3 separate regions of the Homo sapiens genome follow, and all the other regions are linked to region 2. Evidence: fine-mapped expression QTL. A gene starts in region 2. Each other region holds a variant in brackets. All regions are shown on one strand. Distances are between the middles of the regions. Region 1 overlaps LINC00345 (long intergenic non-protein coding RNA 345). Region 2 holds the start of VPS36 (vacuolar protein sorting 36 homolog). Region 3 overlaps CNMD (chondromodulin).

Evidence for each region. PIP is the estimated chance that this variant, and not a neighbour inherited with it, causes the effect.
Region 1: its variant is the best candidate, but not a certain one, in a credible set for the expression of VPS36 in monocytes (Quach 2016, PIP 0.62).
Region 3: its variant is the best candidate, but not a certain one, in a credible set for the expression of VPS36 in whole blood (Lepik 2017, PIP 0.86).

The regions. Positions count from the first base shown.
Region 1 is chr13:52,573,858-52,578,098 of GRCh38, forward strand. The region is part of intron 2 of LINC00345 (long intergenic non-protein coding RNA 345); the gene reads right to left. It also overlaps the pseudogene TPTE2P3. Among named protein-coding and RNA genes, the nearest start is that of LINC00345, 24 kb to the right of the region's middle. The variant G/A (reference allele first, on the strand shown) is at 2,027.
Region 2 is chr13:52,449,111-52,453,348 of GRCh38, forward strand. VPS36 (vacuolar protein sorting 36 homolog) reads right to left here and starts at 1,524. Exons shown (of 14, transcript NM_016075.4): 1 at 1,389-1,524. The coding sequence starts at 1,484. RefSeq lists an enhancer at 1,110-1,690 and silencers at 1,211-1,670, 1,711-1,770.
Region 3 is chr13:52,724,978-52,729,218 of GRCh38, forward strand. All of the region lies in intron 3 of CNMD (chondromodulin), which reads right to left. Among named protein-coding and RNA genes, the nearest start is that of CNMD, 13 kb to the right of the region's middle. The variant C/T (reference allele first, on the strand shown) is at 2,024.

The DNA of each region.
Region 1 (4,241 bases), 120 kb after region 2:
ACTGTTTTTGGGTGACTCCCGTGTGTGTGTGTGTGTGTGTGTGTGTGTGTGTGTGTGTGTGTGTGGTGGGGGAGGTGTATTTTAAAAGAGAAAGAAAAGGGGAAATAAACTTTTCAAAAACCCTTTTATATACCAGACAGTACTGCACTTTTACATATCTCATTGAAAACCCATAACACCTATATGAAACATATGCTGTTACTCTGTTTTTTCTTTTAAAAATAATTTCGTTATGGAAAACTTTAATCATATACAAAAGTCCAGAGAATCATACAATATATCTCCATGTAGTCATCACTTCGCTGCAACAATCATTTCAGCCTGCAACTGGCCACGTTTCATCCATACTTTTCCCACTCCACTCACACCCCCAACCCCACTCTCCACTCTTGCTTTCCCCAAACCTGGATTATTTGGAAGGAAATTTCAGTCATCAGATCATTTTATCCCACAAGTATTTTAGTATGACATCTAAGTACTCTTAAAACAACAACAAAAAACCCTTAATAACTTTTATCATATCTGAAATATTACACCTTAAAAATCCTTAATATCAAATTTCTAGTCCATGTTTGTTTCCAAAATTGTCTTAAAATCTTTGAAAATTTAGTTTGTTTCAGTCAGAATTCAAACAACATCCACACATTTCATTTGGTCGCTATGTCTCCTAAGTCTCTTTTAGTTCATAGATTTCTTGCCATTTTTTATTGCTTGTAATTTGTTTACTGCAGAAACCAGAATGTTTATCGTATAGCATTTACAACATTCTAGACTTTGCTGAACCATTCTAAGAGTTTTACATTCACTATCTCATTTAATATTCTCAGTAACTCTATGAGTAGGCACTACTATGATTCTCATCTTATAAATTAGAAAATTGAGGTTCAGAGAAATTAACTTTTGAACCAAGGACTGAAATCTAGATGTCAGACTCTGAAGCCCATGCTGTGCACAGCTTCTCATTTATATTGCCTTTTCTATATTGCCCCTCAAACCGAAGTGAGAGTGGGTTGGGAATTCTCAAATAGATTTGGATGTGGCTGTAAATGAGTTTTTCTTTAGGTGGTGGGAACTGAATAAGTACTCTTGGCCCTGTTATAAGAACACTAACTACTGTCCCCGTTTAGTTTGGGCAAAAGAACTCAGCCTTATCCACTGATACTTTTCTCCCACACCCAAGCCAAAAACAAAACCAGACAAAGAACAGTCATAGACCCTAAGCGAAAAGGAATGTGTGGATTTACTGAAGTGCAGCCCTACTCATGCCATTTCCATGCTCAAAATCCAGAGTATGTCCCCACTGCCAGTAGCAATAAACTAAATGTTTCAACCTGGCACTCAAGATCCACAGTTTGACTTTTCCAACCTTTTCTTCCACTATGTGCATGCACACATCCCACACTCTAACACATTTAGACTGTGTGCTGTTTCCCAGCCCATGGACACTTGATTCCCTCGTGCCATTTCTCATGCCCCTTTTCCTAGAGTCCCTTTCCCTTCCCAGCCTGAAGTAGTCTCTTGCTTTTTCAGTTCCTAAAGCCCTTTGTGTTTCTCTTAGGGATGATATCACTTTGCATTGTTCTCTAGCTATTTGAAGTGGTGACTTCTGTTTCCCCTTTAAAGGCAAGGCCCATGGCTTACCCATCTTTCCACCCTTTCCTCATAATATCTTCTTTGTTTGTAGTGAGTACCTCCTATGGGTTGGTTGTATGAATTTCTACTACCAGTCCATGTTGTTTTAAGTTGTAGTAGAAAGAAGCATGGGAGCAAAAGCAGCTTGAGGGCCCTGGCAGGTTACAGCCTTTAGGGGAAGGTGGAGAATCTGGTGGCAGGAGCCAAGGAGATGTTAGATAGAGCTCCTTCAGCAACTCACCCCACACGTCTCCCCATCCCCATCTCTTCTGTAGTCATGCATAGTTTCCCGAACTTTAGTCCAGAACTAGCACACCAAAGGCTGCAACTGAATCTCTTCTGATTGACTGAGAAGGCAACACAGGGTCTCAGCTGCACATTTGAGAGATGTGTT[G/A]GCAAGACCTCAGGACAGAGTGCCCTCTGTGTCTGGTGGTGATTCTCGGATACCATCACATTCTGATCCTGCATTGTGGGCCATTCTACTGACTACATCTACTCCTAAGTTAAGAACTTTCATGAGCCTTCCTCATGACTGGCCCTTTCTAAAGGAAAGTATGGCAGTTTGTTACTTCTATGAACATTTCTCAATGGGTAAGATAGAGTCCATGAACTTATGAGTACTTCTTCTTTTTTTTTTTTTTGGAGACAGAATCTGTCTGTCACCCAGACTGGAGTGCAGTGGTGCAGTCTCAGCTCACTGCAACCTCGACCTCCTGGGTTCAAGCAATTCTCCTGCCTCAGACTCCCAAGTAGCTGGGATTACAGGTGCCCACCACCACGCATGGCTAATTTTTGTAGCTTTAGTAGAGACGGGGTTTCACCCTGTTGGCCAGGCTGGTCTCGAACCCCTGACCTCAAGTGATCTGCCCACCTCGGCCTCCCAAAGTGCTGAGATTACAGGTGTGAGCCACCAGCGCAGCCAACTTTTGAGTTCTGAACCAGTTGATTCAGTACCAGAGCTCTTCAACTCCTTGAAGATAGATTCAAGGAGAGCCACTGTGAACAGCTTGCCCTAGGAAAAGGACAAGGCTAAGGGAATTCCGGGGCTTCCTTGTGAAAACAGAATTGGGGAAATGGAAAGTGAAGAAATCCTAGCTGTCAGGAACAAGAGAAGAATGACAGGAAACCTGCTACTGAGATATGGAGGTATTCCTCTTGAGTTTTCACATATGGCATTCTCTCATGCCCAGGAACCTGCTCTTCACTAAACCACACACCTTCCTCTAACTCAGTCACAACTAAGCTTCTATCTGCACACTGCTAATGCTGTAACTGTTTTGTTGTTGGTTCTGATTAGTTGCCCTCTCAACCATAAGCAGCCTGTCAACAAGACCTGGCTCCATCCTTGTCACTTCCCCATAGCACTTAATTCAGTATTTTTTCCCCAAGGTAGATAGTTGTGAGGCAGCATCCCTCAAAATATCTAGTAACATAATGGCATCCAGTAAATGTTTCCTTAATTATTTACTGCCCTTAACCTTTATGCAAAAAAAAAAAAAAAAAAAAGGGAAAACTGAAAATAGGAATGCTGACTTCAGGCTTTTCATCTCCACTTAAAGTAAGGCTTCTGTTGCTTTTCAGAATAGATATGTTGGATATTTTGCACAAGTGAAACATAGCTACAACTGGAATCTCCCTCCAAGAAAAACACTGTTTATAAAAAGATTAGTTATTTATTCGATTCATGGTAAGTGTTTATGTAAAATTGAAGAATTGGGCAGGAGGGCCAAGGTTCCCACTCTGGGAGGGTTTTGCTCATTGTTATATACACAGATGATCCTAACTTATACCTGTCTTTTTACGTATCCTCATGCATAAACTCCTCCTTAGGTATGCCCCTCCTCCTGGAATTGCCCATTGATTGCCAGCCCTTAGATGTTCTTCACTTTTTCTTTTCCATCACCAATTTGGAGGACTTCATCCCCTTCCCATCTCTCCTGTTCTCTTTGCTCTTCTGGTCACAACCCAAGGTGGACTTTTCAGGGCAGAGTGAGCCTCTGATGAGGGAGGAGGAGGTCCCATGTGCCTTCAAGACTGGTTATTTCTCAAACCACCTCTAGTTGAGAGTTTGTCTTGGTGGAGGTGTCTCCATATCATATCATTTTCTTACCTTCTTTCAGAGGCATATTTTTTTCTCATCCCCCTGGGCTCTCTCTTTCCCCTCTGTCCTCCATCTGTAACCCTCTCACTCCCAGCCACTCCCATACCTTGTGGCTCTCACTCCCAGCCACAGTGCTGGGGGTCAAGAAGAGCCTCCTAGGAGGAGCGCTTAGGTCTTCCCTGCCTGAATCTACATGAAAATGGAAAGGGTTGCGAGAGAGTGGGGCTCTATGGAGGTATCTTTCACCCACCTAGCTGTTACCGAGTATTAGCAGTTGTAAAAATCCATATAAACATCATGAGAGCTATTTGCCTGCTTCCAGAATGTAAGCAGAGAGATAAAGCTGGGATGCACTGTTGCCCAGGGACGCAGGCAAATTGGTCAGTCGTACACCTTCGGGACTTGAGAAAGAAAGTGCAGAGAGAAACTGGCCTCCATTTCCATGTCCATTTCTCCATCACCAACCTTGCTTCCCCTGCACAGCTTAACACTCAGTAGAGGTGGGAAA
Region 2 (4,238 bases):
AGGCGGGCGGATCATTTGAGGTCAGGAGTTAGAGACCAGCCTGGCCAATGTGGTGAAACCCCGTCTCTACTAAATATGCAAAAATTAGCCGGGCATGGTTGCAGGCGCCTGTAATCCCAGTTACTCAGGAGGCTGAGGCAGGATCTTGAATCTGGGAGGCGGAGGTTGCAGTGAGCCCAGATCGCGCCACTGCACTCCAGCCTGGCGATAGAGCGAGACTCTGTCTCAAAATAAATAAATTAATTAATTAAATTAAGAAGTGCTAAGGCAGTAAGTGAAGTTAGGTCCAAGCAAATTATTTAAGGAAAAGACCTTTACTCACTAATACAGGCAACACAGCCCATAGAAAATGCCCTAAGAGAGTCAGAGGACCTGGGTCCAATGTCACCTGTGCCTCTAAATAGCTGTAAGCACTTACCAGGAAAAGCTGAGTTGAGGAACTTATATCAAAGTACAGCGGAAAGTGTCGTTAATAAAACGGCAAGGGAAGAGAGGTAGCAAATTAAAACTTCTGGAAACCAAAAATGCTTGTGGGTAAATGAGTTTTAAAATTTTTCTAATTCCAGTTTATCCATTTCAATCCAGGACAAGATATTTCATAGTTTCAGTAAAGTATCTACAAAATATTTACTTACACTTCCTATTTCTCCTCTCGATTTGCAAACGCACCTTCTAAGATTTATGCTTGCACTACAAGGCACGGTCTACTATTAATATAACACTTTACAAAACACGCTCAGAACGCCTTTCTAAAGCAATTAGAAAACAAAACAAAAACCCAATAGCCTTTGGCAAGGGCATTCCAATGAAGCACTGATACCTCTTTAGGAAATCCTTTCGAAGCAATCCCTCACCCCTCTGCCCAGATATGCTAATCCCTCCGACTGCATAAGGTCCAAGCTAAAGCTTCCGCTGGGGCACGGACTGTACGGCCACCGCGCCCTCCTCACAGAAAGGCGAAACGGGGCTGTCCGGTGCCGACGCCGAGGTTGGTGTCGTCAGGGGGTCTGGAACCACGCCAAGGAAGTCGACTGCCGGATCGCCGCCCGGCGCCCGCAGACGGCGAGCGCTCCTTCTCCCGGGCACTGCAGCTGTGCGCTCCCGGAAGCATTCCGGGCGGAGGGAAGCGGCCGCGATCCGCGCCTGCTGGGAACCGTGCCAAAGTTGGGACCCGCGCTGGGGAGGCAGCCGAGCGCCCCACGCCACGTGCTACCGACCGGCGGGGAGCGCAAGAGCGCTGCACCCCGCACAGAGGCCTGCCGGGCCGCCGAGGGCCGTGAGCTAAGCCGGGGACCGGGCCGCGCCGACCCGGGCCGCGCTGAGCCGGGCCGCGCGCCCACCGGGGGTCCCTTCCGCCAGCCCGTTGGGAAGGTTGGCAGACGCCCTACCTTCTCCTCGCCATCGTAGATTCGCACCCCGCGCTGCTGGATCACCAGGGTCTCGTTGATCTCCAGGAGGCCGCTGGTCCAAACGAAGCGGTCCATGGCCGCTGCCACCCAGCCCCGGCCCTCCGAGGCCGCGAGCAGCGCGCCAGGCAGCCTGCGGCGCCCCCTAGCGTCGGACGGGACGGAAGCGAGTCGGGGCGGGTGAGGGACGGAGGGAGCGGCCTGGCAGCGAGCGGGCGCGGCTGCGAGGTGCGCCCGGGGACGTGGAGACGTGCGTGGAGCGCCCCCTGGCGGTCCATTAGCCGCCGGCCTTTCAGAACCCTTGATCAGCAGGCGGTCCACCCCATTCTAAATTCAGAGCTTACAGGGACGCGAGGGAGCCCCGACCACAGCTTGGACTTGCTTATTGTGCATTATGCCTGCATGTTTGTGGCAGTTTTCTTGTCAGTGCCCAGAATGTTGCTACATTCGCTAATGATTGTAAATAATCATAACCCCTCTCTTTCAAATGAATATTTATGGCACGCATTGTTTCTGTACAGCTGCAGTCAGTACTACCTGTGCTGCTCTTTTTTTCCCTTTAAGATTATATTGTAACACAAAGGATAAATGCTTGAGGTAACGGATACCTCATTTACCCTGATGTGATTATTATACAGTGTATGCCTGTATCAAAATATCCCATATACCCCAGAAATATATACACCTATGTACCCACACAAATTAATTTTTTTTTAACTGGGGGAAACAGATTTTATTTAACCGGGCTTGATGCGCGCGCCTGTATTCCCAGCTGCTTCCGAAGCTGAGGCGGGAGGATTGCTTGAACCCAGGAGTTTGACACCAGTGGGCGACATAGAAAGACCCTTTCCCCCTCCACCCCAACTCCCCCACGCCACTCCACTCCCCCACCCCCAGGCTCAGAAAAAAAAGATTATTTTTATTTAGGCATTTTCAATATTAATACAGACCTCATGCGTGAATTTACATTTCAATATGTAGTTCCTCTATAATTTAGCTGTTTGTTGGTCTGCGCAAAGCCATCCATGGCCGCTGCTCTCACCCACCAGGCGGCCTCGTGCCCCTAGCCATTTCATTTTTGTATTTTGCTTTATAAATGGAACACCTGGCCGGGCGCGGTGGCTCACGTTTGTAATCCCAGCACTTTGGGAGGACAAGGCGGGCGGATCACAAGTCAGGAGTTCGAGACCAGCCTGGCTAACATAGAGAAACCCTGTCTCTACTAAAAATACAAAAAATTAGCCCGGCGTGGTGGCGGGTGCCTGTAATCCCAGCTACTCGGGAAGCTGAGGCAAGAGAATCGCTTGAACCCTGGAGGTAGAGGTTGCAGTGAGCCGAGATCGCACCATTGCACTCCAGTCTGAGCGACAGAACGAGACTCTGCTTCAAAAATAATAATAATAAATAATAAATAAATAAATAAATGGAGCAGCTTATAGATGTCCTTCTACAATTGATACATATTTTTCTCTTTAGGATTATTTTCTTACAGTGTCTTCCTAAAATAGAATGACTGCTTTAAAGGTTGTGAACACATTTTAGAGAGCCTACCACTTATTGGGGTCTTAACTAAGGCTGCGTGCCCACGTGGGCAGAGGGGCACAGGGGCAGAGGGACAGAGGGCAGGCTTGCTCTCTGCCCCCAGGGCTCCACATTTCCCCCAGTCGTGGAGTCAGTGGTCTGTGGCTAGGCATTAAAAGAAAGGAAAGGCTCTTTCCAATGAGTATAAGCCATCTCTCCCCCGAAATGAATTGCTACTTTTACCGTGTTCCAAAATCCTGTGTGTATTTTGGTCTATTTCTAAACAGTGTCTTCTGTATTTCATATCTTTCAATTTCCATCATGACCATATACCCAATAACCAAAAGTTCTTTGAAAACATTTGATTTGCTGTAATATGCTATCAATATATATCACAATTTACCATCATTGCCTGATTTTTGAGCATTTGATTGTTTACCAACTTTTTAGTCTTTTTTAATTGAAAGTAATGTGACCTAAGCATCCTAATCAGATGTGGAACTGTGCAGTTATGCCTGGGCTTTGCAATTATCAACATGTTAGGCAGTGAGGACATTTGCAAGGTATGTTTTCTGCCCTTGAGGGATGTACAGTCTGTAGGACACAAATAGAAGCCTGGCATATGATAGCTGCTGGGATAGACAACCGTATAAGGGTTTCCTGTATCCAGGCTGGAGCAAGGAGAAACGTCATGTGGCTTATATATGGCAATAAATGAATAGACAAAAGGTTTTAATTTTTATGAAGTTCAGTGTATTTTTTTCTTTCATAGTTCATGGAATTTGCCTATTTAAGAAATCTTTTTTCCACAAACCAGATATTGATACTGATTATGAAATCTTTGCCTAACACAAAGTCACTAAGATTTTCTCCTATAATTTCTTCTAGAAGCTTCATAGTTTTGGTTCTTACATTTAGGTCTATGCTTTTTTTTTTTGAGACAGAGTCTCACTCTGCCGCCCAGGCTGGAGTGCAATGGCACAATCTCGGCTCACTGCAACCACTGACTCCTGGGTTCAAGCGATTCTCCTGCCTCAGCCTCCCGAGTAGCTGGGATTACAGGTGCCTGCCACCACGCCTGGCTAACTTTTGTATATTTTGTAGAGACAGGGTTTCACCATGTTGGCAAAGCTGGTCTTGAACTCCTGACCTCAGGTGATCCACCCGCCTTGGCCTCCCAAAGTGCTGGGATTACGGGCATGAGCCACCACGCCCAGCCATCCCCAGGATGTTTTTGCCAGGACCTCCCACCTTCTGAATCAGATGGTTCCTTTCAGTCCCAATCCTACTGGACCTCTGTAGTGCCCAACA
Region 3 (4,241 bases), 280 kb after region 2:
AGGTGGTAATTTAGACAGACAGCATAGTCAGGGGAGGTGACTCAATGAGGGGATGATATTTGAGCTGGGACAGAATATGTTAGTTATTCCATCTATATTCACAAGCTCAGATGAAATGCCACCTTCTCCATGCAGCCTTCTCTGAACATCTCAGCCTAAGCAGCTGTCTTTCCTCTGCTTTCCCATAAGTCCTCCTGTCTTCATTCCTCAACTGGGATGCTTACTCAGCTATACACAGCCTACTTAGTTATAAGCTTCTTGAGATCAGTATTTGAATCTTTTCTGTTTTCTTTTTTGGTGACCCCACAAAGCTATTCAAAAGATGTTGGTCAAATTAATTAATTCTGTGAATTCAGAATTTTCCTAGGTTACTGAGCCCAGAGTAAACAGTAAAACTTTCTACAGCACCTGGTTCTGAACTTTCCTTCTATACCTTACCCAAGGACTTAGATGTTTTTTTTTTGTCTCCTGAGAGATATAAACAATATCTTCTCTTGGTCTGCCTAGGGACTGCCTCAAGGGAAACATCAGCCACAAAGCTCCAGTCTTGGCTGAAAGCACAGCCCCGATTCTACCCACAGAGGACATGAGGGGTAACAGGATGCTCTGTCCCAAGAATGTTTACTCTCCTCCTGCTGCTGTTAGTTTCAGGACTAGTGAATCTAAAATAAAGGCCTACAATTTTTATGGTATAATAATGGAGATACTAGCACAAATCTGAACCTTATCAGTCCTCTGTTGAGTTGAGGCAAGTGTTGGAATGATATAGAAATGGTACCAGGGCCAGTGATAAAGAATGGGGGTAGAAAACACTTAAAATCTAGGGATCCTGGCTCAAGATTCAGCCCTTTACAATGAAGAAGAAAATTAAATGTAAGTCATGCTGGAGGGGATTAATGGATAGCTCTACCTTATGTAGTCACAGAGCCAGGAGCCCTACAGAAGCTGGTGAGTAAAGGACTGCAAAACACAGAAGAAAAGGCTCATTCTTCCTCAAGCTCTTTATTATTTGTCTTGTGGCTTAATTAATCATGTATACATATGTAACTCATTTCACCTATTTCTCCCAGCACTACTGCTCACTCAGAGAGACAGGGGCATTATCCCCACTTTACAGAAGAGGAGCTCCGAGGCTCACTGCTGAGGCTTGGCTCTTAACTGCACCTGAATTCACTGTAGAGGGTTTAAGAACACAGACGCCTGGGTCCCTTCCCAGAGATTCCCATTTGATTGGTTTGCTTTGGGGCCCAGGTATTGGGAGCCTTAAAAGCTCCCCAGGTGTTTATAATTTAAAGGGTTGATGCCAGGGTTGAAGACTACCATATGAAAGAGAAAGGTGTTCAAGGTAACAAAGCTTTTAAAGTGATGGCAATAACCTTTGGACCCAAGTTTCTTTTTATCAGTGGTTCACAAACCTTCCCTTGTATCAAAAATCCCCTGGGTCCCCAGCAAAACTTCAGAACAGTCTTCATTAACAACCACACCTTAAGCTACCAAGAAAAATCACAGACACCACCGACGCTGTTTACAGCTAAAAAAAAAAAAAACATACAGAGACTATACTACTGCATGCACCCAGAATGAAAGCTGAAGTGCCCTACCTAACCAACACCAAAAGTCCACACCTATGAAAGCAAATTTAAAAAACTGTAATAAGCAACTATTAAATCAGATGCACAGATATCAACACAAGGACACAGGAAGCATGAAAAAGCAATAAAACATGACACTCCCAGAGGAATACAATAATTCTCCAGCAACAGATCACAATCAAAAACAAATTTATGAAATCCCAGAAAAAAAATTAAATATTGATATTAAAGAAGCTCCGTGAGATACAAGAGAATACTGAAAAACATGACAAAGAAATCAGAAAGACAATTTAGGATATGAATGAGAAATTTAATAAGGAGATGTATATTATGAAAAAGAACGAAATAGAAATTATAGAACTGAAGAATTCATTGAATGAAATACAATATACACTTAAAAGATTCAACAATAGAAGCCAGGCACAGTGGCT[C/T]ACACCTGTAATCCCAGCACTTTGGGAGGCCAAGGTGAGTGGATCGCCTGAGGTCAGGAGTTCGAGACCAGCCTGGCCAACTATAAACCCCATCTCTACTAAAAATACAAAAAAATAAAAAATAGCTGGCCATGGTGGTGCACGCCTGTTATCCCAGTTACTCGAGGCTGAGGCAGGAGAATCGCTTGAACTCAGGAGGTGGATGTTGCAGTGAGTTGAAATGGCACCACCGCACTTCAGCCTGGGTGACAGAGCCAGACTCCGTCTCAAATAAAAAAAAATGATTCAACAATAGACTATTTCAGGCATCTCAGAACTTGAAGAGAAGTCTTTTGAAATAACCCAGTCAGACAAAAATAAATAAAAAAGAATAAAAAAGGGCCAAGCATAGTGTCTCATGCCTGTAATCCCAACACTTTGGGAGGCTGAGGCAGAAGGACTGCTTGAGCCCAGGAGTTCGCAACCAGCCTGCACAACATGGTGAGACCCCATTTCTACAAAAAAATTTTAAAAATTAGCTAGGTGTGGTGGTGTGTGCCTGTAGTCCCAGCTACTTGGAAGGGAGAAGGATCACTGGTATATATATATATATCCACAATGGAATACTATTTGGCCATAGAAAAGAATGAAATCATGTCATTTCCAGTAACATGGATGGAACCAGAGGTCATTATGTTAAATGAAATAAGCCAGGCACAGAAAGACAAATGTCATATGTTCTCTCTCCTATGTGGGAGCTAAAAAAGTTGATCTCATGGAAGCAGAAAGTAATGATAGATACCAGAGGCTGAGAAGGATATATGGGTGGAGCTGGGGGAATGAAGACAGGTTGGTTAGTGGGTGGTAAAAACATGCAGTTAGACAGAAGAAATAAGTTCTAATGTTCAGTAGCAGAGTGGGGTGACTATAGTTAGCAACAATGTATTGTATGTTTCAAAGCAGCTAGAAGAGAGGACTTGAAATGTTCCCAACACATAGAAATGAAAACCAAATACCCTAACATTATCATTACACATCCTATTCATGTAACAAAATATCACATATATCTCATAAATATATAAAATATTATGTAACAATTTTAAAAAGGCAAATTAAAAAATCACCTGGGCCAGGGCGGTGGCTCACGCCTGTAATCCCAGCACTTTGGGAGGCCGAGGCAGGAGGATCACGAGGTCAAGAGATGGAGACCATCCTGGCCAACATGGTGAAACCCCATCTCTACTAAAAATACAAAAATTAGTTGGGCGTGGTGGCGTGCACCTGTAGTCCCAGCTACTCGGGAGGCTGAGGCAGGAGAAACCCAGGAGGCAGAGGTTGCAGTGAGCCAAGATTGCACCACTGCACTGCAGCCTGGCGACAGAGCGAGACTCCATCTCAAAAAAAAAAAAAAATTCACTTGGAGGACTTGTTAAATTAAACAGTGTTGTGCCCCACCCCCAGTTTCCCATTCAGTAGGTCTGGGGTGGGGCCTAAAATCTGCATTTCTAACAAGCCAAGTGATGCTCCACTGGCAGCCTGAGGAATACACGTGGAGAATAACTGCTTTCTCTTATGCTACCTCCTGTAGGGCTGCTGCTCTTATTTGGCATGTAAATTTAGGACTCATAGTTTGAAAAACAGAAGGCAGGGAGGGAGATGATGCCTTCTTATGTGACATTTTCTCTTAACTTCAAACACATCCCCTGAATGTGAGATGTGTGGAGGGAATGCACACATCTCCGTCACCATATCCCCAAAGGGGAAAGCTGATTCTACTGAATGATTCGCAGCACTGAATGGGAATCTAGTGTTAAGTTGGTTCTGACAGTCGACACACCGCAGTGAGAACTGAAACCCCCATGGGGTAGGAAGTGTGGGAAAGAATTCACACATATTAACTACCGTGTCTAGCAAAAACTCCACATCAAGCAGCCAGATATATTAAGAGATTAAACAGAGGGAACTAAAAGAAGCACAAGAAAGCCAAGCAAACCTCCTGTTTTTGCAAACAAACAGGCTTTAGAAGCTGGTGGTAATGAAGAAATTTGCTAGCAAGGGTGATGAGTGGAGAGTCCAAGAATCTAACATTCTTTTTTCAAAACAGTGATGTAATCTTACCTTGGCTGCACATTTTTTTCTTTCTAAGGTATCTCATCTATTTCTATGGCTTAAACCAGAGGTTCCCAAGGATGGTAGGAGTTCGTGTCCCCAAGAGGGCACTTTAGAAATCCTTGGAGAA